Regions from separate parts of the Homo sapiens genome. Here region 1 is linked to region 2. Evidence: fine-mapped expression QTL. A gene starts in region 2. The other region holds a variant in brackets. All regions are shown on one strand. Distances are from middle to middle. Region 1 has its middle 36 kb from the start of CITED2. Region 2 holds the start of HECA (hdc homolog, cell cycle regulator).

Evidence for each region.
Region 1: its variant is fine-mapped to the expression of HECA in whole blood (INTERVAL, PIP 0.98). The same link has a PIP of 0.9 or more in monocytes.

Annotation. Positions count from the first base shown.
Region 1 is chr6:139,332,794-139,344,171 of GRCh38, forward strand. It overlaps the pseudogene LOC100129844. Among named protein-coding and RNA genes, the nearest start is that of CITED2, 36 kb to the right of the region's middle. The variant C/T (reference allele first, on the strand shown) is at 5,255.
Region 2 is chr6:139,130,231-139,141,608 of GRCh38, forward strand. It overlaps HECA (hdc homolog, cell cycle regulator), which reads left to right and starts at 4,850. Exons shown (of 4, transcript NM_016217.3): 1 at 4,850-5,437. The coding sequence starts at 5,167. RefSeq lists enhancers at 3,314-3,363, 4,642-4,936, 5,802-5,921 and silencers at 4,642-4,831, 4,942-5,021, 5,422-5,691.

The DNA of each region.
Region 1 (11,378 bases), 200 kb after region 2:
TGTGCTCATCCCATCCTTTAAACAATCATAGTGACTGCGGCCTGGGTGGGTGGAGGTGAGCTCTTTCGCGTAGGCTCCACCTCATAGTAAAGAGGAGTCACCTTTTCCTAAGCACATGAACTGGGGATGCGGTTGTTCATCCAAAGCAAAATTGGGGTATTGTTACCAACATGAGGAAGAGTGGATATCCTGGGCATAAAGAACAAATGTCCACCCTAAGGTAGAACTCAGATGTTCCAGCAGCAGAGCTGGTCAGAATTTGAGGTCAACGATCTCTAGACCTCTTCATGAAATTCTTTTTTCTGATATAGAACTTTAGAAAAGAAGGGTATAAATATCAGTTGAGATATGAAATATTGTCATATCATTGCTATGGACTAAATTGCATTATCTCTCCCGTTACTCCCAATTCATATGTTGAAGCTCTAACTCCCAATATGATGGAATTTATTGGTGAGGATTTGGAGGTAATTAAGATTAGACGAGGTCATGAGAGCGCGATTAGTGGCTTTTTTTTTTTTTGACGGAGTCTCATTCTGTCATCCAGGCTGGAGTGCAGTAGCACGATCTCAGCTCACTGCAACCTCCACCTCCCGGGTTCAAGCGATTCTCCTGCCTCAGTCTCCCGAGTAGCTGGGACTATAGGCGCCTGCCGCCACGCCCTCCTAATTTTTTGTATTTTTAGTAGAGATGGGGTTTCACTGTGTTAGCCAGGATGGTCTCGATCTGCTGACCTCATGATCCGCCCGCTTTGGCCTCCCAAAGTGCTGGGATTATAGGCGTGAGCCACCATGCCCGGCCCTAATGGCTTTTTAAGAAGTGGAAGAGTAAGAACTTTGACTCTCTGTCATGTGAGGACCCAGGGAGAAGGCAGTTGACTACAAGCCAGGCAGTAGACCCTCACCAGACACTGAATCTATTGGCACCTTGATCTTGGATTTCCCAACCTCCAAAACTGTGTAAAGTAAATGTCTCTGATTTAAGTCATCCAATCTCTAGTTTATTATAGTACCACAAGCAGACTAATACAATTGTGTTCAGGAAATGAATAATTCAAAGAACTTGTCTTCATAGCCCAGATATGCTTTTGGTATATAAAGAGTTATTCTAGTAAAGGTCGTCAAGTGTTTCTATTGGAAGAACATTCAAATGTAAAATGTTTGGCCAGGTGTGGTGGCTCACACCTGTAATCCCAGCACTTTGGGAGGCCGAGGCTGGTGAATCACCTGAGGTCAGGAGTTCAAGACCAGACTGGCCAACATGGTGAAACCCCGTCTCTACTAAAAATAAAAAATTAGCTAATGTGGTGGCATGCGCCTATAGCCCCAGCTACTCAGGAGGCTGAGGAAGGAGAATTACTTGAACCCGGGAGGCTGAGGTTGCGGTGAGCCGAGATCACGCCACTGCACTCCAGCCTGGGCGACAGAGTGAGACTCCATCTCAAAAAAAAAAAAAGAAAATATTGTTTTTCAGTGTTCAATATATTTTCTCACATACCTGTCTAGCAGTGGTGTCATGCAACTCAATCTGTATCTTACGGACAACCACAAAGCATCTTGATTTGGAAATATATACACCACATATTTGTGTTGACAATATTATCCAATCATTTGGAAACATAATTTATGAGGAAACTAGAGGTCCTGCATTTCAGCCATTTTGTCAACGAAGTCTCTACCTCAAGTAGTTCACTAATGAGGAGAGAGATTTATTTCTCAGTATCAAGTTTATGACATGAACGTCTGTTTTACAGCAATATTTACCTGTTCTTTTTTTCATCTTTAATTCTTGGACTTCATATAAAAAGGACAAAGTAAATCACATAGTCAAATTGGCTGATTCCGCATAAGCTCAGAGAGAAGAGTTCTATTTCAGAAAAATAATTTAATTCTAAATCTGTGTCTGAAGAAATATCATCTGTAAACTTTAGCTGGAAAGTGTTCTAAGAATATAGAGATATTCCCCATGGTCTTGATTGTGTTCATCCTGAAAGATTCAATTTAATAAGAGAAAGGTTTGGGTCTTTTGAAAACAGTAAGAAAATCATTTATCAGAGTTTCTATTTTCTCTGGGCAATTTTCACCATTTCAGCATACCCAAGAGAGAAATGACGTATAATTTTGTTATGCTGAAGAATTTGGCAAGCCAGCTAATGGTCTTACTAAAAGTGAAGAAATCCCTTTGGTGACAGATGCAGGAAGTTATGTCTGAATCATTTGGAACCATTGTAGAGAAGCCTTTGTTCCAAAAGAGATGTGTGGGGATTTTCTTGGGAAGAAAAGGTGTCTGAATATTCTTAAACCTCGAACAGATTTATCAAACTTGCTGCTTCATTTAATCCTTTGCCAAATGGGCTCATCTTCCATCCAACAGACTTCTCCCTAGCCATCTTCATCTTTCAAAAAGTCACCCTTAAAACGCATCTTGTGTTTCTTTCACTGCTGTGATGATGAAATCTGTCTCAAAAGAAGCATGTCGGTGTTGACTTCATAATCTTAGAGGCTGTAACATACAGGGAAGGCTGTTACTTAGAAACATACTCTCAGAAAGGTTTTTTGGAAGTTTTTAGGGAGGGGGCGAAGAAGAACTAGGGACAGGTAGATGGTGAATAGAATAACCTGAAGCCATGAGTCAAGGTCAACAGCAACAATAAGTCAAAGCAAGATCACTGAACATTGGTGAAAATAAAAAGAAGTGGAATCAGACTACAGAGGAAAATGAGTAAATTTAGTATCCAGAACTACTCTTAATGGGAAGTCCTATTAGCTTGTCTCCCATCAGAGTTAGGTGAAGTAATAATCTCCAAAAGGTGGGGCTGTTACCTCTGCAGGCGTTTAGAACTGGTCTGAACAAATCACCTGCAAGCTTTTTTGTGGTGGAAGAATGCTGTAGAACGGAGCTGTGAAAGCAAGTATAATTTCTTTTCTGACTCCCTCTGACTTTCACTTAATCATGTACAGGCAGTTCAAAAATCCTGCTGCCTCTTTCTTGCCAATTTCAATACAAATTCTCTCTGGCCAGAAAACTGATCATTTGGTATATAACCTTTTTTTTTTTTTTTTGGTTGGTTCCTCAGTTTCTCCACAACATCACCTGACATTCTGCTACATAAATAGCTATAATTTTAAATAAAATGAGTCAAACGCTAGTGTCAGGCCTTTACAAAGGCTCTCTCACCCTTTAAGATCGCTATAATCCCTCTTTTACATAAAAGGCAATAATGTTCAGACTCTAAGCTAGTGAGTTGAAACGCAAACTCTGAACCATCTCATCAGAAAAAAAAAAGAGCATAGGTTTAGAGTCAAATGAACTCCTGTGTGAATTCTGGCTTAGCATGCCTATTTCTGTCCCAATCTATTCTATAATCTCCTTTATCCTTGTAGTGGAATTATTTTAAATTCTATCTTGAGACCCTTGTCTGGGAGCTTATATGATTCATTCCATCATTGCCCAAATGAGATAGACCAGGAGGCTGGATCCTCCTCTTAGTAGGGGTGGATGCTTTTTTAGTGGCTGTAAATGGATCAGTCCATGACTTAATTGTGCATGAAATAGAGATTTTTAAAAATTTTCTATAACCAAATTTAATTTCTGTCATAAATGCTAAATTTCTACCTGGTAATGACAAATTTAATTCTTCTAATTCAGGATAAACCTAGCCAAATTAGGATTTTTAAGACATTGTTTCAGGGTAAAATCATTCAATTTAGGCTTCTTCCCCCAAATTTCAATTAGCCCAAGTGGCATCTAACTTTAGGGAGGTGTTACGAATTAGGTAACCCCAAGTTATTTGCATTTCTTCTTTTCCTGAGAGTGGAAGTAGCAAGGTATAAAGTGTTATAATAATGGCTAGTAATTTGCAAAGAGGTAAGATGATCTTACAGGAGTAAACCAGCTTGCTGGAAATGAGTATTTTCAGTTAAGGGCCAAAATTGTGTAGCACGAGCTCCCAGAAAGCCCCTGGAATTGTGCCAGCAGACACGGCCATGAATTTGGCAGTGGCTGCTGTAGCCGTGAGGCAAGGTAGGCCTTTGCCACAGGATCAAAAGACAGACTGTAATAAGCTATGGATTTTTGGTGCTTTCCTTGTAATTAAAGCTATTAGAGAATCAGAATTTTATTTAGAAGCTTCTTTATTCCAATCAAAAAAGATAGTACATTCAACATTAGGACTTTACTGTCCTAATGAAGAGAAACTTCATTTGCTCTAAGAACACTGTAAGATGGACAATTTTGGAAACATATGGAATTCTCCCAAAGTGGCCAAATCATCATCGGTGAACTAGTGCCAGTTTGTGAGATGTGTGCAAGCATTTGGATAATAATAAAGAAGCAAGTGTCTGGACTGGCAGAAGTGCACACTTGAACTGAGATTACCCCTGGAGAAATGATCATGGTCAGTTGAATGTGTTGGTTCTGCATTTTGTGTCTTGAGCCACTAACCAGTGGCTGGCCACCCTTGACAAGAGACTTGATAATTTGTGGCCCTCAGCAGATAGAATTTTTGGATATTCTGTCTTTCATATTAACTGTCAGTTGTAAACACAGAACAGAGGAAAAATGGACCTTGTACGTTTTTTTGTTGGTGACTTGAAGTAAATTTCATTTACTGGGGAACATAAGCTTGACAAAATTTTTATTAACAGCTTTATTGAGGCCAAATTGACATACAATAAAATGCACATAATTAAACTATAAACCTTGAAAAGCTTTGACATTTGTATACACCCAGCATAATAATCAAGATAATGAAAATATGCATCATAAGTTTCCTCATGTCCGTTGGTAATACCCCCTTCTTCTCCCTGCTCCCCATACCTCTGAGTCCCCAAGCAACCACTGATCTGTTTTCTAACACTGTAGATTAGTTGGTGTTCTAGAATTTTACATACATGGAATATAGTGTGCATTCTGAGAAAAAATATATTTTTTTTCGCTCAGCATAATTTTGAGATTCTTCCATGTTTTGTGTGAGTCAATAGTTCACTTTTTGCATTGATTTGTATTCTGTTATATGGGCATACCAAAAATTGTTTATCCACTCACCTGAACATAAACATTGAAGCCTTCTTTCCCTAGGTTTCTGCTGTTATAAATAAAGCTGCTATAAATATTCATCTACAAGTTTGTGTGTATAGATACATACTTTGTTTTCCTTTAAGTAAATATCTAGGAGTGAAATTGCTGCGTCATATGGCAGGGATATAATTTCCTTTTTAAGAAACTGTCAGTTGCCCCATCGTGCAATGTGGTG[C/T]GGCAACCAAGCCAGGGCTGCTCCATGAAGAGGAAGCAAAGACGGCTTGCCAGGACAGTGATGGAGAAGAACAAAAAGGCAGGATCGCCTCAATAAAAGGAGGGTGGCTTTGCCAGTTTGTAATTTAAAATACTGAAGCACAGTCTTTGAAGCAACAAGGAAATGCACACTATGCCAAGGAAGATTACAACGAAGCTTATAACTATTAAACAAAAGCCACAGATATGTGCCCTAAAAATGCTAGCTATCATAGTAATAGAGCAGCTACATTGATGATACTTGGAAGGTTCTGCGAAGCCCATGGAGATACTTTCACAGTGAAATTGGATGATGGTTTCTTCTGGGGACATCTACGAGAGGGCAAGTGCCACCTCTCTCCAGGGAATGCCATGGCAGCACATTGCAGTTTTCAGAGAGCCCTAGAACTGGATCATAACAATGCTCACTCACAACAGGAGTTCACAAATGCTAATGCAGTCAAGGAATAGGAGAAAGTCATAGAAACAAGTTTTGAGAAGTGGGCTTTTCAGAAGGTTGTTTTCTGCATGGACTATGCCCTAGAATTTGCCCCTGTCTGCCATCACTTCAATATCCCTCAAAGCAGAATGTTTAGCAATGCTGGGTCGTTATCCAGAAGCACAGTCTGTGGCCAGTGACATTTTATGAACGGATTCCACCAATGTGGATGCTCTGTATGTACGCGGACCTTGCCTTTATTATGAAGATTGTACTGAGTAGGCAGTTGTTCAGTTTTTTGTACAGGCTCTCAGAGTGGTTCCTGACCATGAGAAGGCCTGCCTTGCGTGCAGAAATGCCAGAGCACTTAACGCAAAGAAAGAAGACTGGAATAAAGCGTTTAGGGAAGGAAATTACAAACTAGCTGATGAACTGTACGCAGAACCCCCGGGGTAGACCCCGACAACATAAAAGCAATTGCTAAACTCTACTGTAACCGGGATATGGTTAATTCCGAGCTTGGGAAACTAGATGATGCAATAGACAGCTGCACAAATGCAGTGAAGCTCATGACACTTACATAAAAGCCTACTTGAGAAGAGCTCAGTGTTTCTTGGACACAGAACAGTATGAAGAAACAGTGCGAGGCTATGAAAAAAGTATATCAGATGGAGAAAACAAAAGAATACAAACAGCTCCTAAAAAATGCACAGCTGGAACTGAAGAAGAGTAAGAGGGATAATTACTACAAGGTTCTGGAAGTGACAAGAATGCCTCTGAGGACAAGATCAAGAAAGCTTATTGGAAACAGGCCTTGAAGTACCATCCACATCGTCATGATGGAGCCAGCGCTGGGGTTCAAAAGGAGGAGGAGAAGATCAAGGAAGTGGCGAGGTCTTTATCATCCTCTTTGATTCCAAGAAAACGATTCATTATCACAGTGGGCAGGACCTGGATAAGGAAGACATAAATTTGGGTGATTTTGATGCAAACAATATCTTCAAGGTATTCTTCCGCGGTCCTACGGGCTTCAGCTGTGAAGCATCTGGTCCAAGGATTTTCTTTCTTCGATTGGGCTCATGAAAGGCAACCATCCAGAATCCAGAAAATGCAGAGTCGCTCAGTTTAAATGTAATCAGCAGATCATTTCTATTAAGAGAGGAATATTTAAATCTCAAACCATAATTTGTCTGCCTCTCCTGTAGATCTATCAGTTTTTTGCTCAATGTATTTTATTATTAGGTGCATAAATGTTTAGATTTGTTTATGACCTTTTATCATTATGAAATAAACTTGAAAAATCCCATGTAATATTGTTGGCTGTGAAATCTATCATGTCTGGTAGTAATATAGTCACTACAACTTTCTTATAGTTAAGGTTAGCTAGATTATCTTTTTCTGTCTTTTAACATCTAACGTGTGTGTGTGTGTGTGTGTGTGTGTGTGTGTGTGTGTGTAAATGAATAACACCAAAAACAGTTACTTTGAGAAAATCAGTGAAATTGGTCAATCTCTGGCTAGACTGATCAAGAAGAAAGAAAATATATATGGAGAGAGAGTACATTTCTTATATGCAGCATATAGTTTGGTCTTCTGTTTTTTTCTTTTCTTTTCTTTTCTTTTTTTTTTTGAGACGAAGTTTCACTCTTGTTGTCCAGGCTGGAGTGCAATGGCGCGATCTCAGCTCACCACAACCTCCACCTCCTGGGTTCAAGTAATTCTCCTGCCTCAGCCTCCCAAGTAGCTGGGATTACAGGCATGTGCCACCATGCCCAGCTAATTTTGTATTTTCAGTAGAGACGGGGTTTGGTCAGGCCGGCCTCGAACTCCTGACCTCAGGTGATCCGCCAGCCTGGACCTCCCAAAGTGCTGGGATTACAGGCGTGAGCTGCCGCACCCGGCCCTGTGTTTCTTTTCTGTTTGACAATCTCTGACTTTTAATTGAGATGTTTTGACAAAGTTATATTTAATGTGATAATTGATAGATTCAAGTCTGTCATCTTGCCATTTGTTTTCTGTTTGACCCATCTCTTCTTTTTCTTCCCTTTTCCTCATGTCTTTGGTTGAAGAACTTCCTTTGATATTTCTTTTTTTTTTTTTTTTTTTTTTTTTTTTTTTTTTTTGTGGTGAGATGGAGTCTCACTCTGTTGCCAGGCTGGAGTGCAGTGGCGTGATCTCAGCTAACTGCAATCTCCGACTCCCGTGTTCAAGCGATTCTCCTGCCTAAGCCTCCTGAGTAGCTGGGATTACAGGTGCGCACCACCAAGCCCAGCTAATTTTTGTGTTTTTAGTAGAGATGGGGTTTCACTATGTTGGCCAGGATAGTCTTGATTGCCTGACCTTGTGATCCACCCACCTTGGCCTCCCAAAGCACTGGGATTACGGGCATGAGCCACTACGCCCAGCCTGACATTTCTTATAGAGCAAGTCTGTTGCTGATAAATATTTTCAGCTTTTGTATATGTGAAAGAGTCTTTATTTCACCTTAGTTCTTGAAACATATTTTGCTTGGTATAAAATTCTAGTTTGACAGTTTAATAATTTTTTTGTCAGTACATTAAAGATGTTGTGTGTCACTGTCTTCTCACTTGCATTTTTTCTTATACGAGATCTGCTATAGTTCTTATCTTTGTTTCCCTAAATATATTGTGATGTTTTTCTCTGCTTTACAATGTTCTATCACTTGTTTAGGAAAATTTAATTATGATGTGCCTTAGTGTCGTTTTCTTCACATTTCTTGTGCTTTGGGTTCATTGGGCTTCTTGAATATGTAGATTTATGCTTTTCATTAAATTTGGAAAATTATTGGCCATTATTTCTTCCCATTTTTTTCTGTTACCCTCTCTCTTCTTTTTCAGTGACTTCTATTACATGTATATTAGGCATCTTGAAGTTTTCCACAGCACAGTGATACATGGTTTTTTAAATGTTTATTCTTTCTCTGTTTAATTTTAGATAATTTCTATTGCTATGTCTTCATATACACATATACACTAATCTTTTCTTCTGCAATTTCTAATCTATTTCTTAAACTCCTTATATATATATATATTTTTTTTCTTTGAGACGGAGTCTCGCTGTGTCGCCCAGGCTGGAGTGCAGTGGTGTGATCTCAGCTCACTACAAGCTCTGCCTCCTGGGTTCATGCCATTCTTCTGCCTCAGCCTCCCGAGTAGCTGGGACTACAGGTGCCCACCACCACACTCGGCTAATTTTTTGTATTTTTAGTGGAGACAAGGTTTCACCATGTTAGCCAGGATGGTCTAGATCTCCTGACCTCATGATCCACCTGCCTTGGCCTCCCAAAGTGCTGGGATTACAGGCTTAAGCCACCACACCTGACCCCTTAAATATATTTTTAGGCTGGGCGTGGTGGCTCACACCTGTAATCCCACCACTTTGGCAGGTTGAGGCAGGAGGATTGCCCAGGAGTTTGAGACCAGCCTGGGCAACAAAGTGAGACCCATCTCTACAATTTTTTTTTTTTTTTTTGAGACAGAGTCTTGTTCTGTTGCCCAGGCTGGAGTGCAATGGCACAATCTCGGCTCACTGCCACCTCTGCCTCCCTGGTTCAAGTGATTCTTCTGCCTCAGCCTCCTGCATAGCTGGTATTACAGGCGCTTGCCACCATGCCTGGCTAATTTTGTATTTTTGGTAGAGACAGGGTTTCACAATGTTGGCCAAGTTGGTCTTGAACTCCTGCCCTCAGTTGATCCACACACCTCAGCCTCCCAAAGTGCTGGGATTACAGGCATGAGCCACTGTGCCTGTAATTTTTTTTAATTAGCTGGGCATGGTGACATGTGACTGTGGTACCAGCTACATGGGAGGTTGAGGTGGGATGATTGTTTGAGCTTGGGAGGTTGAGGTTGCAGTGAGCCATGATTGTGCCACTATACTCCAGCCTGGGTGACAGAGTGAGATCTTGTCTCAAAAATATATATATTGTATATATAGTGGTAAAAGAATCTACATAAAATTTGCCATTTTATCCATTTTTATGTGTGCAGTACAATGGTGTTAAGTATAATCACATTATTGTGAAACATCTAATTTGCTTCTAATTTCATCCAATGAATTTTTCATCTCATTTCTAAAATTTTCATCACTAGAATTTGATTTAGGTCTCCTCTATATCTTTCATGTCTTTACTTAACTTTTGATCATTTGAAAAACAGTTACAATAAGTGTTTTAATGTCCTTGTCTGCTAATTCTAACATCTAGGTGGTTTTCAATTGACTGACTTTTCTCTTCATTAAGGGTGGTGTTTTGCTTCCTTCATGACTGGTGATCTTTTATTTTCTTTCTTTAAATTGTGTTTTATTAGATTTGAGATCCTGATGTATGGTAATCCTTGATTGAATGCTGGGCATTATAGATTTTTTCCTTGTTTGGTGCTGGATAGTTTCATATTCCTAAAAAGACTCTTGGTCTCTTCTTGGATGGTAGATTGGAGACATTGTCAGCATGCTTCTCCTCCTTGGAAAGACACAATAGTGTGTAGTGTTTCACACTGTGAATTTTTCTCCAAGAAGCAACACAGGAACTAAACAGGAAAACTGAAAGAAACCACAGGCCCTTTGAAAGAAGTGGTGGGCTGCAGCCTACACCATGAGTCAGGTGAAAAACTAAGTCTGCAGAATCTGAAGGGGGATAAACTGCCTCCAGGAAATACACTCCCACTGGGGAACCAGTTAATCCAGTCCATGGGGGAAGGCCTTAACCCTACTGAGTGCTGGCATTGATTTAGGGATTGATGTGGCATATAAAAGCAGGGGCAGCAGTGGGAAGAGCCTTGTGTGCATTCCCAGTCTTCAGCACAGACTAAGGGAAGTGATTTTTGGTCCTACCTCACAAGGGACTTCCCAGAAGTCTGCCAACTAACTCAAGTGGTGGTTGCACGTTGAGAGAAGCTCCTAGCTGAAATTCATGATATAATTTCAAGTGGGGACAGACTCCCTTGGCCAGAACTGGGGGCAAGTGGGAAGTGTGCTATAGCCACAAGTACAGGAGCTGGGACTGGGAGGAGCATGTCCTGAAAGCAGCTGTTGCTGTCTCCACAGGGAAGGCTTATGGGCTGGGGCAGTTTTGAGTTTTAAGTGCAGATTGCCTGGAACTTAGCTAGCTGATGCTAGTGTAACACTGCAAGTATGAGAGACCTGCCTTTCTTTTTTCTTTTCTTTTTTCTTTTTTTTTTTTTTGAGACGGGGTCTCACTCTTTCTCCCAGGATGGAGTGCAGTGGAGTGATCTTGGCTTACTATAACCTCCGCCTCCTGGGATCAAGCAATTCTCCTGCTTTAGCCTCCCAGGTACCTGGGATTACAGGCATGTGCCATCATGCCCGGCTAAGTTTTGTATTTTTTGTAGAGATGGGGTTTCACCATGTTGGCCAGGATGGTCTCAATCTCCTGACCTCGTGATCTGCCTGCCTCGGCCTCCCAAAGTGTTGAGATTACAGGCATGAGCACCGCGCCTGGCCTGCGACCTGCCACCTGCCTTTCTAAGCGTGTGGGAGCTGGGTAGGCTTACTGTTGCCTGCTATTCCCCACTCCCTGTGAAACTCTTCTGTGCAACACAGGCAGCTGCACTGCTTCCTGGAATATTACCGGAGCAGCCGGAGAACTGGCCCCCAGCTCCTACTGGGGTTATTTGCCCTGCATGTGGAG
Region 2 (11,378 bases):
AACTTGCATTCTAGTGTGGAAGGACAGACAGTAAACAAAGTTAATAAACATAAAAATAAATCTCTTAGGCCGGGCGCGGCCTCTTAGGTGGCTCACACCTGTAATCTCAGCACTTTGGAAGGCCAAGGCGGGTGGATCTTAAGGTCAGGAGTTCGAGACCAGCCTGGCCAATATGGTGAAACCCCGTCTCTACTAAAAATACAAAAATTAGCTGGGCATGGTGTCGCAAACCTGTAATCCCAGCTATTCAGGAGGCTGCGGCAGGAGAATCACTTGAACCCGGGAGGTGGAGGTTGCAGTGAGCCGAGATTGTGCTACTGCGCTCCAGCCTTGGCGACAGAGCGAGACTCCGTCCCAAAAAAAAAAAAAAAAAAAAAAAGTAAATAAATCTCATGAAGGAAACGTTCTTTCGGGTTTACTGGGGCCTAAGATAGTATTGATGCTGAACTGGGACAATAGTATGAGCAAGGAAGGCACAGAGGTTCGAGTAAGCAGCAAGTTCAGGGATCACTGAAAAAAATTCTGACCCTTTTTTATGACTGCTTTTATAGATTATGAAAATAATGTAAAAGTCACAACTAAAGGATGGAAAAGAGATTTTAAGGGCAAATATTTGAGAAAAATATTAATATTGGTAATCGGGAACAGCCTAAAGGGAGAGTAGATCTATGGAATTTATTAATCAATATTATTATTTGCTTTAATATTCCATTTTTTCAAAGTTTTTATAATCACAATTGTCATTATTCCTCAAAGAAAACCTGTGGCCATAGGAAAGGCTATTTGCAGAAGAAAAAACTGATGCATGAAGACAATGCATTGCTCCAGGTGTATTTATTTGAAGTGACTTTTTAGCAGATCAGGCTTTAGTACCTTTTAGCTTATGTTTCAATTGTGGACATATTCTTGTGTGCATTACTGTGTTATCTGCAGAATTCCTTCTGAGTTCCAATATGATTTTTTCGATCAAGGTGTATTTGGATATTTGGCTTCTTACCTATGTTCTAAGTTTTCAATTATCCTTAACACATATATTTTGTACTTTAAACCTAACCAAACTTAGCTGACCCCAAGAGCTCAGAAGACAGCCACAAAATGTCAAATGAACAAAATTAGGGCACTGAAACAATGACTGCTTATTCCAGTTCAGCCTGAAGATTAGCCCACCCCTTTCTTAAGGGTGTAAATTGTTTGCTTTTGATGCCCTTGATTTGTTGCTGTGCTTTATTTTGTTTTCGCAGAGAAGTGAGCAATAGGGTGGGTGAGGTTTGGGGGAAGGAAACCTAGGATAGAGGTATAATTTTTTTGAAGTTTATATCAGAGCATGAGTTGATCAGGGAAATTGAAGAATGAGAAGGCAAGTGTAGATGTACAGAACAGAGTGGCTTCCTCAGTTCCTTGGAGTTCTTTATACTTCTGGAAGTTTCTAAGGGGAATGTTCCATTGTACCATCTGCCACCTTTTGTCTTTTGGTATGCTGTCTCTCTCTCTCACCTTCAGAAATGGTGGGAAAACGGCTAGGACAGCAGGATAGAACATAGGAAATGGAGTCCTTTAACTTCACCTACATTTTGTTCCTAACATCTTGATTTTAGTATATTGTCTTTGTAGCAATAAAATCGGAACTATTGCCTCTGCACCAAATTTGACTAAGGCTAAAAATAGATTAGCGAGGTTGAGCATGGAAGAAGTGGCAAGCTTCTCCTTCCTCCTTTTCATTTTGTTTCAGTTTGAATAGAAGGAGGTAGCTCACACAATTAACCAGAACAGCAACTGGCTGGATGTCTGGGTGCTTTGAGCCAATTAGGATATTTTTGTGGAAAGTTTCCAATTCTTAATTCTCAGTTATGTAGAGGTGGGAGGCAGCTGGTGTGAATGTCTGTCTGCAGGGTACATGCATACTAACTCTGATCCAATATGGCATGACAGCAATGTGCTTATTCAAGAAAATAATTATCTCAATTTTCTTGTACTCTAACCTAAAATGTCTTCGCCTTCACGACTTAAAAAAACAAAACAAAAAACCAGAAAAAAAAAAAGAAACGCCAAAGCTAACATCACCCACATATTTTGAGACCTCTAGTGGTATCAATAATGAAATTAAGCTAAGTCTGAATGGGCAACAGTAATTCATTATCTTCCTCCACGGACCCACTGCCCTCCCCGGGAAGTCTCCCTTTAATTAACTACCTTCATCATTTCTTCTGATTTTCAGAATTTCTTGACTTCACTCTCTCTTTCACCCCTCATTTTTGGTGTCCAAGTGGCCACCAAAGCAATATCCCAGTGTGTAAGCTGCTATGGTGAGGAAGGTGCAGGGAGTATCTGGGGACAAGTCTAGTTTTGGGTTGTCACAGATTTCCTAGAGAATTGATGATTTAGCTGAGACTTTAAGGTTCAGAATAATGTAGCCAGAAGAAGAGTGCTTTAGGTATCTTCCATGCAACAAATTTTTATTGAATACTTACTGTGGGTCAAGGTTTATGCCAGACTCTGTAGCGTTAGAAAGCTAGGCACAATCCCTGCTCTCTTAGCACCTAGGGGATTTCAAGGTTGGGGAGAAATAGACATGAAAATATAAGCACAAAATATCTATCTATCAATAGGGCCTTCTAAAGGGTCACTATCCTCTAATACATATTAGGGAATTTAAAATTTCAACTTTTTTTTTCTACTAAAGAGTCCAACCAGCAATTTCCCCTGAGTATCCAGTGCTTGCTCCTTCTTGCCGTTCCAGGCTCTGTTATGCATTCTGCTATGGTTGCCCAGAGCTCGCAATCAGAATCTCCTCTCCATTACCTGAATGTGGGGGAGAGTATTGTTTCTTGTACTTTCCTGTCTATCTGTATAGTTCACAATGAGGCAGAGAACAGAGTCTGGAGGCAGGGAACCTAAGGGCGTTTCACCCCACTTCCTAAACTAAATTGAAAGGAAAACCCTAACTTTCCACACCTGAGTAACAAAAGGACCAGAAGCTGCTCCCTTTGCAAACCCTCACCTTTTCTGCGTGGCAGATGGGAAACTGGCTGTCAGCAACCAATGAGACTGATTGCGGGTGGAGTCTTTGCATAGAAGTGCAACTTTGTAACTTCACCTTAGCCTCTGATTGGTTGCTTTTTAAACAGAAGTGTGCAAAAAGTGTGATTGCACAGAAGTGTGACCTTTGTTAACTCCACTTCAGCCTCTGATTGGTTGACGAAAGCAACCAATCAGACTAATTGTGCGTCACCACTTCATTTACATGAGAAACCTCCAGGGGGTATTTGGACCTCAGAAGATTCTGCATCCGGAACCTTGAGCCACCGCTGGGGCCGCTTCCATACTGTGGAGTGTACTTTCATTCTCAATAAATCCCTGCTTTCTTCTTTCCTTGCTTTGCTGGGCGTTTGGTCCAATTGTTTGTTCAAAATGCCAAGAACTTGGACGACTTGCAGTCAAGACCCTCTAATGGTAACAACAACACCGTGACAGAGCTTTTACTAAAGGGCTGAATTAAAGATTACACTATAAAAGGGGAACACTGTAAAGCTGTCAGCTAAACTAGTCTTTCCTCCACAGTTCGTGAGGAAGGAACCTAATTTATACATTCAACAAATTTATGCCAGCTGTTCTCTGATGTGCCCAAGGCAGATAAAATCTATCCATGGAGGTTTCATTTCAGTGAGAGGGAGATATACAAGAAATAAGTAAACACCTACATTGCCAACATAATTAGAGATGGAGGAGGAAAATAACAGGGTGGAACTTCTGACAGCTCTCCTGGGAAGGTCTCTGTGGAAGTGATGTATTTGAGCTGAGACCTGAAGGAAGGGAAGGAGTTGGCCGAAAAGGTAGAATAGAATTGCAGAAAGAGATCAAGGGGAGCTCTTCCCAGGGGTCCCCTGCCCTCATATTGCCTGTCTTCACTGGTGTCACCTAATCTCCTACTGCTCATAACCTGGCTACCTATCTTTCACTATCTTTCAGGACAACTCAGCCCTATGCATAGGGATGGGTTCCCCCCAAGCAGGGACTGCTTCAGAGTCCAGGCAACATCTAGTTACATCCCTGGATGATGGGTCTTGTTTGAGTGAATTGTTTTCACCACCAGACTGTGAAGGCTTCCCATTCAGGACCCTGGTGTTCATCCCCATTGTCTGGGAACTCTACCCTGTTTCTTTCTTTCTTTTCTTTTTTTTTTTTTTTTTTTGAGACAGAGTCTCGCTCTGTTGCTCAAGCTGGAGTGCAGTGGCGCGATCTCGGATCCCAGGTTCAAGTGATTCTCCTGCCTCAGCTTCCCGAGTTTCTGGGACTACAGGCGCACGCCACCACGCCCAGCTAATTTTTTTTTGTATTTTTAGTAGAGACAGGGTTTCACCACGTTGGCCAGGATGGTCTCGATCTCTTGACCTCGTGATACACCCGCCTCGGCCTCCCAAAGTGCTGGGATTACAGGCATAAGCCACCGCGCCCGGTCCCCTGTTTCTTTAATTACTGTTACTGAAAGGCATAGCCTTTGAATGAGTTATTAATCCAAAATCTTTTGTTTTCCATTCTTGCTCTAGTCACAGCTTATTTTTCCAGACCATACTGTTCTAAGCCTCAATTACATTAAGGCCAGGAGGCCACCGAAGAACTCCACATGCCACTGCACTGGCGGGTGGAGCAAGTCAAGCAGGGCAGCTCATGAACGCCCGGGAGTCCAGGAGGCCCGGGTGGGGACGCCTGGATGACGTCACTCGAGGTGGGCAGGCCCCGCGCGGGGCGTGACGTCACGCGGGCGGTCCCGTCAGCCGTGAGGTCACCTGGTGGGCGCGGCCAGGCCGAATCCCCAGTGTCGTCACGGGAGGGGGCGGGCCCAGAGCGTGTCAGTGCAGCCGAATCAAAACAAGCCGGAGACCCGCCTTTTCCCTCCGGCTCGGGAGCGTCTCGCTTGCGCCCCGGGCCCGCGGCGCCCGCGCGGCTGCGAGCCTCGGGTGGCCGCGTGCCGGCTCCAGGAAGCCGGAGAGGGCGCGGCGGCCAGGATGGCGCGGCACGGGCCGTGCGGCTAGACGGGAGCCGAGGGAACCGCCGGCTCGCGCCCTCCGTTCTTTCCCGGAGCCGGCTTCACGCAGGGCCGGGAACGGCCGTGCCTCTGGGATCCGCCTTCGCTGACGCCGGGCACCTACCTGGACGCGAGCGAGCGAGATGCCCAACCCCAAAAACAGCAAAGGCGGCCGCAAAAACAAGCGCGCCAACAGCAGCGGCGACGAGCAGGAAAATGGAGCCGGGGCCCTGGCAGCGGCGGGCGCGGCGGGAGCGGCGGCCGGGGGGGCCCTGGCGGCGGCGGCCGGTTGCGGGGCGGCGGCGGCGGGCGCGCCGGGCGCCGGAGGCGCGGCGGGCGCCGGAGGCGCGGGGACTGGCGCCGCGAACGCTGCGGCCGCCGCGGGGGCTGCGGCCGCGGGCGATGCCAAAAACGGTAAGACGGGGCTGGCGGGGCGAGCGCCAACTTCCTCCCCGACGGGGACGGCGCGGTGGCGGGGCCCTGGGTGGCGCGGGCGGTGCGTGGACAATGCGAGAGTCAGGAAGTGCTCACCCCGCCCCTCCGCCCCGCCGCGGCTGCCCCTTCGCGGTCCCCACGCCTGGCGGCGGGGACAGATCTGCGGCCCCTGCCCGGTGTCCGCGCGGGGGGCAGCCCGCGCCCCACACTCTGAGGGGCTCCCGGCTGCGGCAGCGCTGCCCTCGGGCCCAGCCTGCTGCCCGCGCTGGCACTGCCCCGCCGTGTGTGCCGGGCCGAAGGGAGGAAGGAAGGGAGGAAAGAGCCGCCCAAGTTGAGAAGAATGATCCGATTGAAAACTTAGGCACCGGTTAATTCTTCCCGGTGCTCCAAGGCCACCCGTAACCCCCGGAATGAAGGAGAGAGAGCCTCAATTCTTAGCACACCCAGGCTTGCTGCGTCGATCGCCACAGGTGAAGAGGCCTCGAGACATTTAGGGCCTCTGTGTTTGCTCTTTAATTTTTTGGCTTGCTTGAGGAAGGAAGAGAATCTGAACTTGACTTCCGTTCTCAGCCCGGAGTTAAAAAAAAAAAAAAAAAAAGAAAAGAAAGAAAAGAAAAATCATTCTCTATGTCATTGTGCTTAACATTTTCAGAAGGAAGCCTCATAATCTTAGGTAGTGCCTGAATGTTCCTTTTGAGGGGACACTTAGGAACTGGCCCAGATGTGACAGGATTTCTGTTCTCATTACAGAGCCATGGTTTTCGTTATAAGGTGCTGGGCAAACACTTACTTATTTGGACAGTTCTTTGAATTCCTCTAGTCAGGCACTTTTTCCAGGAAGACAACGTAGGTATTTTAATGAAGGGAGATTTGAATTGTTATATCTGGCTTTTAATTTATAGCGTCAGCTTTTGAAGCCATTCTTTATGTAGATCAGGCACTTTTTTGTTTTGTTTTTTTTTTTTTAGACGGAGTTTGCAATTTCGCCCAGGCTGGAGCGTAGTGGCGCAATCTCGGCTCACTGCAACCACCGTCTTCCGGTCTGAAGCGATTCTCCTGCCTCAGCCTCCCGAGTAGCTGGGATTACAGGCGCCCGCCACCACGCCCGGCTAATTTTTGTTATTTTTAGTAGAGACAGGGTTTCACCATATTGGTCAGGCTGGTCTCGAACTCCTGACCTCGTGATCCGCCCGTCTCGGCCTCCCAAAGTGCTGAGATTACAGGCGTGAGTCACCACGCCCAGCCAGATCAGGCACTTTTTAAACAGGGCACCTGCTCTTACAAGCAGCGTACAGTGCTCTGAACATAGGCGGCTGAATGTCGCCTGTTAGAACTGTAGGCCCCGTTGGCTGTGTCTCTGCAATATTGAAATAGGAAGATTTATTTATTTATTTTCAGAAACAAACTTACCCCGTTTGTGAATGTTTCAGAATACTAGTTTTGGGTAGCCTGTGTTCTTCATGTTCTTTTGTTTTTCTCCTGGCTTTAACCTTCATTTTGGTATTGATGTGGCAGAGAGAAAGGTGCTCAGACTCTGGGTAGGACAGACTCCTAGCTCAGCCATTTAGAGCTTCATCATCTTGGAAAGGTCAGTCTTCCAGAGCCTCAATTTCCTCATGTGTAAACTTGAAAAAAAATTACCCTGGCTCCCTCCTAGTGTTATTGAGAGGCTCAGAGTGCCCCTTCCCTATTATGCTCCCAGTTCTTGTTATTTTAAAGGTTACATATATAATGAGCTTAAAGTTTCTCACAAAGAGTGCATGAACAATGATGACAGCTTTCGTTTATTCATTTAAAAAAGATTACCTGCAGTGTTGCAAGTACCGTGTTCAATACTAAGGGATCCAGCGGTAATCAAGACGAGACATCCCGGTCCTCAGGGAGCTTGCATTCCTGTTCTGGTGGTGGTTTTGGTTTGCTCTGCCCACCCCCCTACCAGCTCCTTTTTTTTTTTTTTTTTGGCCTATGTGGAAGCTTCAAGTTCACAGTTTCCTTTTTTTTCTTGCTCCAAAAGATTAGTCCAATTTAAGGTGGCATGAGGAAATTTTTTTCTTAGGCTACTTGTACCTCCTAGTTTGTACATAACAAACTGGTTAAGGGGCCCCTATTATTATTCTCTGAAGTGGCAGACTCAAGTATATTTAGCAGCACAGTGTATGTGAAGAGCTGTTTCTGATTAGGAGCTTATTTTATTAAGTGAAAGGCGGGGAGAAAAAGGAATGGGCCAACATTCCCATAGTCAGGGTCAGAGGATGTAACTTATATTAGAGGAGTGAGCCAAATTTTATGATGCCTGATTCTTGTTTCTGAAGTGATGTGAAGTCTTCGTGAATGATTCACCTTAATGTGAGGAACCCCCCCTCAGTTCTGCAGTTGATGATAACTGAACTTGGATGCTGAGGACTCCTGGGTGCAAAATCAAATGCTTTTTTCTTTTCTTTTCTTTCTTTCTTTGTTTTTTTCTTTGTTATTTAAAGCTATAGTTTATAAGGTAGGGGTTTGGGAGAGGCGTTACTGGTGAATTTTTAAAGAGGAAGGGGCAAGAGATGCGTAAATTCTCAAAATCAACTAAGGACCAATATTTGGATTTTTAATGTTAAAGTTATTATCGGTAGTAGTTTTAAGTGTATTTCAATTTTTTACTTAACTGTGACATTAGATTTTGTAATTACAGAAATTACAAATCAAGTAATTATTACAAGAAAGGAGGTACTTGATATTCTTTGAAACTTGTAAATAGTTTTTCACTGTTCAAGTCAGCTATCTACATCTGCAAACATGCAAACTTAATGACTTCGCTTAAAATTAATAGTGTTTATTTGTAGTTGTTTGGAGTTTATAGAATGGTTTTGTGTCTTGTAGCTCTTGGGCAGTGCGGCCACCAGAGCAGGGCAATATTAGCTTTTAGTTGTTCAGTTTGTCAAGTGGGCATAAATAAATACTTATTCTGTAAAGGAAGATTACTAGTTACGGAGAGCTTGGGGAAGCCGCGGTATAGTTGTGGTTGGAGAAGATGAACTGGCTGCAGTTGTGCATCTTGAGTAAGTTTAATATTAATTCTTAGGATATCATACCGCTAATAAGACATTTATTAGATACTAATTTTAAGATACTAGTTTATGAGGCTTATTTTTCAGGGATTGGTGTAAAAGACCACCCCATCTTTTTCCTACATAGTAATCTGTCTGCACATACCATTTGCATTTTCATTGCAGGTATACAAGATTACCAATGGTTATATTTAGAATCTAGTTATCAAAAGGTAGATACGTAGTTTCATTCTGGTTCCATTAGGCCTCTACATTTTTATATCAGGCCTAAAAATATTTGAAACCTTGATCATAGTATATCTAGTTTTCATTGGGCCTGGATCTTAAGTACTTTTATAAATTCCTGTTATTGGATGACCATGGTTCATCACTCCACTCATTCCTTACTGCCTCTAGAACCCGTGGGCAGCAGAGTCTGCCTTAATTCATGGAACTGTTTCTAGCAGATGGAGTTCGTTTGCATAGAGATTGGCTTTCCATTTGGTGGACCTAGATTCAAATCCTGGCTTCTCAAATTACTTGTCAAATGACCTTGGGCAAGTCATTTAACTTCTCTGAGCCTTGGTTTCTGCTTTGTAAAATGGATTGTAGTACCTACCCATACAGATGTAGTAAAATATCTGTATCTATCTATTAAATATATTTAAAATAAATAGATTACATACATTAGATAGATTAGAACAGTGTCTGACTTACAGTACCAGCTTACGAAGTATTAGCTGTTTGTCTTAGATCCTGGAAATAGCCTGAGCAGAGATACACGTGCTGGAGGTTACTGGAGAGTGCTCTTGGCATCATTCCTAGTGGAGGAGGGAAGGAAGCAGGATTGGGCAGAAGCAGGAGTTGAACTGTGATGCATCTGTAACAGAGACCCCAGTTGATCCTCTCTTGGGGGAGCTCTGGAGGTGGGATGGCCTTTCTGAGTTATCTCACCTTAAATAATAGGGGCAGGGCCTTCTACACACTCCCCCAACTCCCAGTTGACTGGTCATTTGGACTTGGGCTCCCCCCAGGAAGAGAGCATGACCTTGAGGGTGGCATCTCTTTACCTGGAAACCCTTTATGGAGAGGGACTCTGCTGAGAAGCTTCAGCTCTGAGTGAAAGGAGAGCCATTCTTATTCCCCTAGCATTATGGATGTCTTCATTTAGACCACCAGTACCATTCACATAAAACACAGGTGTGGGATAAATATTTCTCACTAACAACTAAATAGGCTTTGTGGAGGAGACTGGGAATTAACCACCATTATAACAGTGTTTCCATGGGAAAACGCATTCTGAATTCCATATATCTGTTGACAAGTAGATTTTTTTTGGAGTACCACCTGTTCCCTATGCACAGGATTTGTATTTTGCTGCATATTTAGGCCACTAAAGACACTTTTTATAACCGAGGTTTGTAGTATATTTTAAATAGTTTCTTTTTAGATGTTTACTTTAATTCCTACTACATTTAAATTACCTATATCCATCAGTAGGAAAATGAAAAATGTTTGCTTGCTGTTTATTTTCAAATCAAGGAATATCTGTTGAGGATCTAAGGTATATAGGTTACCATTATAATCTTAGAAAACATTTTCTTGCCTTATCTAGAAGTCAGTTTTTTGGGTCTCAAGAACTATTTGCCTTTGGATGTTGTCTTTTGAAATCCACCTTTTTAGTGGAGATTGGCAGAAAATATTGCCTCATGCATCAAAGATTCTTCCTGTACACTTCGTGTATTAAAGTGAAGAGCTCTTCTGTGCGCCGTTCATGGTGCTCTATGCGCAGTCTCGTCTTTCTCTCATTCTTTACTTGTTAGAGGATCTGTGATCTGTCCTTAAGTTCTAGAAACTAAACCTTCAATGTCAATTTTCCTGTAAGTCCAAGAATATATTTCATTCCATGGAGAATTGAAAACGGGAGATAAAACGGGAAAATCTCTTGCAGCTTAATCCTCCTATGAGTTTACTTCAGGCTTTTAGCTATGAATAATTTAAAGAACTTGAAGGTACCAGAAGAGATTCTTTACAGAAAAAAATCTGTCCTAACTGATTTTGATCAGCAACTCTTTGGCATTTTTGTTTTTTGAGATGGAGTCTCGCTCTGTCACCCAGGCTGGAGTGCAGTGGCACTATCTCGGCTCACTGCAAGCTCCACCTCCCAGGTTCACACTATTCTCCTACCTCAGCCTCCGGAGTAGCTGGGACTACAGGCACCCGCCACAATGCCCGGCTAATTTTTTGTATTTTTAGTAGAGACAGGGTTTCTCCGTGTTAGCCAGGATGGTCTTGATCTCCTGACATCGAGATCCGCCCACCTCGGCCTCCCAAAGTGCTGAGATTACAGGCGTGAGCCAGCGCGCCCGGCCCTCTTTGGCATTTTTAAGGGCTTTATTTATTTGAAAATATTGTGTTATTTTATTATTTTACCAGTAATGAAATAAGCATCTTAGAAAAGAAGCTTTCTTTGCCTTTCTGGTTAAACACATAATTCCACCACTTAAGAGATCAACATTATTAATATTTTGATATATGTTCTTGCAGCCTTAAATTTTTTTTCTCACAAAACTTTTAAAAGTACATATATAGTTTCTGCAAAAAGAAGATCATATATTTTATAATCTGATTTTTACACATAGAATAGTTTGTGGACATTTTAGCAGAGCAGTAAATATACAGGTGCATCATCATATGTCTGCACCTTGGAAATTTGATCATTCCACTATTGTTTACCTTTAGGTTCTTATTTATATATTTCTGGGCATTTGTCCACTTAATTACTTCATGTGTTAATTTGTTTCTGCTGCCACAACAAAATACCTCAGTGTGGATAATTTATAAACAATAGAAATTTATTTCTCACAGTTCTAGAAGCTGGGAAGTCCAAG